Regions from separate parts of the Homo sapiens genome. Here region 2 is linked to region 1. Evidence: fine-mapped expression QTL. Tissue or cell type: whole blood. Region 1 holds a variant in brackets; the other region holds the start of a gene. All regions are shown on one strand. Distances are from middle to middle.

The links.
Region 2: it holds the start of KCTD7, and the variant in region 1 is fine-mapped to the expression of KCTD7 in whole blood (TOPMed, PIP above 0.99).

What each region holds. Positions count from the first base shown.
Region 1 is chr7:66,572,221-66,575,130 of GRCh38, reverse strand. It overlaps the pseudogene RABGEF1P1. Among named protein-coding and RNA genes, the nearest start is that of KCTD7, 55 kb to the left of the region's middle. The variant G/C (reference allele first, on the strand shown) is at 1,755.
Region 2 is chr7:66,627,633-66,630,542 of GRCh38, reverse strand. KCTD7 (potassium channel tetramerization domain containing 7) reads right to left here and starts at 1,662. Exons shown (of 4, transcript NM_153033.5): 1 at 1,335-1,662. The coding sequence starts at 1,478. RefSeq lists silencers at 1,302-1,871, 2,882-2,910.

The DNA.
Region 1 (2,910 bases):
GTCATCCCTGCTGGAGTGCAGTGGTACATGGTACAGTCTGGACTCACTGCAACCTCTGCTTCCTGGGCTCAAGTGATCCCTCTGCTTCAGCCTCCCAAGTAGCTAGGACTACATGAGCATGCTACCACGCCCAGCTAATTTTTGTATTTTATGTAGAGACAGGGTTTCACCATGTTTCCCAGGCTGGTCTCAAATTCCTGAGCTCAAGTGATCCGGCTGCCTTGGCCTCCCAGTGTGCTGGGATTACAGGCGTGAGCTACTGTACCCCGCCTGTGTTTGGGAATTATTACAGATGGTTCACATGCAGCTAATCCAAACCCAAATTTATTGCTTTTATTTATTATTCTCCGCATTCTGAACATTTTCCTCCTAACCCTTCTCCTGAGTCAATTAATGGCATCACTATTTACCAAGTTAGCTAAAAAACCTTGGTTTCATTCTTGATTTCTCTTTCATCTCCTATGCTGCCTACAACTTGACCAAGTTCTGTTTCTTCCAACTCAGAAAAGTCTTGAATTTTACCTTTTGTACTCCTATTTTCCAGGTGCTTATTTTCTTTTACTTAAACCTTTATAATATACTCTTACTTCTTGTTCCTGTCTCTAGTTTCTCTACCCTTCAAGTTGTTCACACAGCTACCTGCATGATCTTTCTAAAGTACATACAACGATCTGACAACGATAACTTCTTGGATTTACAGTCTTTCTTGCTTCCCCACCACATGATGAAATCCAGAATAGTGGGCTCAGCAATCAAGATTCCCTACCCTCTGGAGCCTTCCTGTGTATCCAGCATCACAGTTCATCACACGCCCAGTGCTCTGGCTACATTCAGCTTGTTGTGAAGCAAACCACAGGCTTGCACATTTGTAGTTCCTTCTTCCTGGAATGTCCTTTCACTTAGAATCCTAGTCAGCCTTATTACTCAGACGTGGTGGTGTGCACCTATAGTCTCAATAACTTGGAAGGCTGAGGGATGAAAATTGCTTGAACTCGGGAGGCAGAGGTTGTAGTGAGCTGAAATCGTACTATTGCACCCCAGCCTGGGTGATGGAGTGACACTCTGTCTCAATAAAAAACAACAAAAAAAAGGATCCTATTTATCCTTTAAGACCCCACCCAAACATCACCGTTGTAAAGCCTTATCAGCTCCCCCCAGCAGATTGCGTTGTTCTTTCCTGTGTTCTCACAGCACTCAACTTTTACTCTCTGATGTAGCAGCTGTCCCATTCTGTAGCAGTTGTTTACTTACCTTTTCGTCTGTTCCAGCCTTGAGCTTGTTAGGGAAAAGGACTAGACTTTATTTATTTCACTGAGCTTGTTGGGGAAAAGGACTAGACTTGATTTCTTTCATGTAACCTAGAGCAGTTGCTGAATGAGCATGAGAGGATCCCATTTGAAATCTGTAGTGCATGAAGAGCCGTCCATCCTGTAGCTATGTGAGACCTCAGACTGATTTGGCATATTTAGTCTCTAGGTCTAAAATCTTTAGATCCTCCTGAATTAATGGAGTAATAACCTTCAGGTATAGAGAAATCTTGGAGAATATCTAGATCATTCTAATCCTCTCTTGAATTGCAGACTCCAGCGGGAGGAAGAAGAGGCCTTTGCCAGCAGTCAGAGCAGCCAAGGGGCCCAATCCCTCACATTCTCCAAGTTTGAAGGAAAGAAAACCAACAAGAAGACCCGCAAGGTTACCACAGTGAAGAAATCTTCAGTACGTCTTCCAGGGTCGGATCAAAGAAGGGTAATGTT[G/C]TGATACTCTTTTTTTTCTTCTCTGCCTGAGTGAGACACAGAGGAGATCCCCAATGCTCATAGGCTCAGCTTTGTAATTTCTGTCAACTTTTTGAGAACATCAGCTCAGATTTGACACTGAAATTGGGTTTGAGGGTCAGACAGTATATGAAACCAATACTCTCTTTGGTTGAAAGATATTGTGTTTTAGAGAAATTTGTTTACTTTATAGGAGGAATAAAGAGAATTGAAATAGGTAGTTTTGTTTATGAAATTCATCCCCATCCAAATGACTATCTCTTTGGATGATTTGGTTTTTGCGCCTTTTATTTGTGGATCCTGGTTTGTTCTGTAGTATCATACCCTCATTGTTCATAGCTTGTCAGAAATGGCAATTTCTAGCCTTGAAGGTCATCTGAGAGATTTTCTGCCTGAGAGCTTATTTGAGAGACAGCTTGTGTCATGAGGAATTGTATTGAGAACATATAGGAAAAGGCCCACATTGGGCTCCTGGAGGGATGAAAGTGAGCCATAGTAGCTATTTTCCAGTGCATGGATTTGTATGTAGGTGATCATATTCACTCGGCTTCTTAAAATGCCATATAACCATCAAGAGGATTGTCACTTAAGTCACAGTTGTTCTACCATTGAGCAGACAACCCAGTTGAAGTGGCCCAATATGAAGCAAGAAAGAATCTCTGTTGTTAGGCCTTGGTCTCTGAAAATTTATGTTGGTACTCGGTCTTTGAAAATTTATGTTGAGTTATGCAGTGAATGTGAAATAATGAGGGAGACTGGGAACCAACACTGATGCTGTCAGAAAACCTGTTCTCTGGGAGCCCCCTCACTTGCTCCCCAGTTCTTACCCTGGGGTAATTGTAATGAGATCTTCTCCCCTGGAGGCAGGGGAATGAATAATAAGACAGTTTTTATCCCTTAAGATCCTTGCCAGTCCTCTAGGTTTTGTGACTTTTGCTGTTTTCTTTTGGTTTATTGTAAGGAAATAAAAGGAAATATTGCATATAACCAAAAACATACTTCTCTTTAAGACATGGATACCAGGTGTGGTGGCTTACACCTATAATCTCAGCACTTTGGGAGGCCACGACGGGTGGATCACCTGAGCTCCGGAGTTTGAGACCAGCCAGGGCAACATGGTGAAACCCCGTTTCTACAA
Region 2 (2,910 bases), 55 kb before region 1:
GTCCTGGGACTCCGCATACCACATGCTCCTGGATCTGGCACTACCTTAGTCCCTGCCTCCTAGAAGCCATCTTCGGTGTCCAGTAATGCTTCACCTTCCCTCCTCTTTATTTTTTATTTGTAGAGATGGAGTCTGTGTTGCCCAAGCTGGTCCCAGACTCCTGGCCTCAAACCATCCTCCTGCCTTGACCTCCCAAAGTGCTGGGATTACAAGTGTAAGCCACCACACCTGGCATCGTTTCCCTTCTCTTGCTTTTTTTGTTTTTGTTTGTTTGTAGGTACGGTCTTACTCTATCACACCCAGGCTGGAGTACAGTGGCACAATTACAGCTCACTGCAGCCTCAACCTCCAGGGCTCAAGCAATCCTCCCAACTCACCTTCCTGAGCACCTGGGACTACAGGCACACACCACCAAGCCTGGCTAATTTTCATTTTTGTAGAGGCAGGGTCTCACTGTTGCCCTGACTAGTCTCTAACTGCTGGGATCAAGCAATCCTCCCACCTCAGCATCCCAAACTGCTGAGATTACAGATGTGAGCCACCATGCCTGGTATCTTCTCCCGTCTCTTGAGTGTCATTTCAGGTGTTGACATGATAGTATCACACACATTAAGTAAGACCCGTGGAAGCCCCTGTGCACCAGAGCACAGCAGCCTGTGAGTGAAAGCCATGGGATGCCAGGTGACCGTGCCTACATCTATGAACTGGCCTGCCCCTTATGTGCAGACAGCTCCTTGCCTTGTTCCTTAGGTAGCTGGAGACTAGGTGTGGGCAACCACTACAGCATCCTGTTGGATTCTCTAGAAGACATCTTTTTCTTTTCTTTTTTTTATTCATCCAACCCAAAATGCCTTTGTTTTTCCAGTCGTAGTAGGGACGGGGCCTCGCTATGTTGCCCAGGCTGGCCTCCAACTCCTGCCCTCAAGCGATCCTCCCTCCCAATGTGTTGGGATTACAGGCTCGAGCTACGGTGCCTGGTCAGACACACCATCAGCTCTCGGGGCTCCAGGGTCCCCCTCCCACGGCCCACCCTCCCTCCTGTCTTCGGTAAAAGTGGGACATGGCGATGGGAGTAAATCACCCCAGTGACTACTGGGCGGAGGGTGTAGGGGGTGGGGAAGCACACCTAGTGGGTGTAATTGACAGGGGTTGAAGGTGGGTGGGTAGGGGTGCAGGTGGGCGGGGGAGTTGCAGGTGGGCGGGGGAGGGGCGCAAGTCCGCGGGCCCCGCCCCCAACCCCGGCCCCGCCCACCCGCCGAGGACCGCTATGCCCCGCGCCCGCTTCTCCCCCGCGCCCCTCCCCACGCCCCGCGGCCCGCCGCCCGCCCGGGTACCTCCTGTGGCAGCAGGGGCAGCGCGTGCCCCGCCTGCGTGGCCGTCGGCGTGGCCGGCTCCAGAAAGTCGTCTTCGGCGTCAGAGCTGGACATGGCACCGTCCTGACGACGGCTGTCTGGCTCCCGCCCCGTGACTACCACCATCCCTCTGGCTCTGGGCAGTGGGCGCGGCTTCGGGCGGGCGGAGGCGGCGGCCCCGGGCACTCCCTACCGCCGAGCAGCGCCTGGCATGACGCGGCCGGCTGCGGGCTGGCCGGAGGGGGGCGAGAGGCAGTGCGCAGGCGGGAGGGCGGTGGCTCCCTCAACGCCGACCCGCTCGCGCCCAGCTGGGGCCTGACCCGACCGCCTCCCGCTACTGGCCGACGCCGCGCTGGTTCCGCCCTGATTGGCAGGAAGCTCGCCCAGTCGAAGAGCAGGCAGCGCCAGCGGCCGGCGCCTGAGTGGTCCCTGGGTTGGGGGGGGGGGGGGGGGGCGGCCTGCGAGCCTGCCGTGCACTGATTGGTCCTCTGGCCAGCGGGCGCGCCCTCTCCGAGAGACCCGGCGGTGGTGCGCCGCTACGCTCTCATAACTGGGCGTCGGAGTCTGCCGTGAAGAGGGTTCTCACCCGCGTCAGGGTAGACGCCTTATCCCTTCACACAGGGGGTCACGACTTACTCGTGTGTCTGGCCCCAGAGCAGCGGGTCCTTGTCTCCTCAATGGAAGGCCTGAGCAGCCTTTCCTGGAGGATGTGGCGGGAGGAGGGCTGAGGTGGCTGCGGACACGCCACCGCGGCTGGCCCCGCCCCGAGCCGCAGGGCACCGCCCGGGTGTCCAGTTCTTCCTCACTCGCTCGCGCAGAAATCCGAACGAGAAAACCCAAAATAGGAGCGCTTGAGTTCAATGAATAATGACAGTGACTCCCCACCGTGACCGTTTTTCCACCGGGACACACAGATGGAGACAGGCCCTTCCCCAAGATGCTCCCGGCTCCCTGGGAGGCGGAGTCCAGCCCTAGAGGCTCTATCAGCGCAGGGAGTCTCCTGGGGGTCAAGGTTCTTAGCCCGTTCAAGCCATTTTCTCCTTTCTTTAAAAGACAAAGTCTCACTCTGTTACCCAGGCTGAAGTGCAGTGGCGCAATCATAGCTCATTGCAACCCCTGGGCTCAAGCAATCCTCCCGCCCCAGCCTCCCGAGTAGCTGGGACCACAGACGCGCACCACCACACTCAGCTGATTTTTTAAAATTTTGGCCGGGCGCAGTGGCTCACGCCTGTAATCCTGGCTCTTTGGTAAGCGATGCGGGTGGATCACCTGAGGTCAGGAAGTTGAGACCAGCCTGGCCAACATGGTGAAACCTCATCTCTACTAAAAATACAAAATTAGCCAGGCATGGTGGCACACCTGCAATCCCAGCTACTAGGGAGGCTGAGGCAGGAGAATCGCTTGAACCCAGGAGATGGAGATTGCAGTGAGGCGAGATCACGGCCACTATACTCCAACCTGGGCAACAAGAGCGAAACTCCGTCTCAAAAAAGAAAAAAAAATTTTTTTTTTTTTTTTTTTTTAAGAAATGGGGTCTTGTCATGTTGCCCAGGCTGGT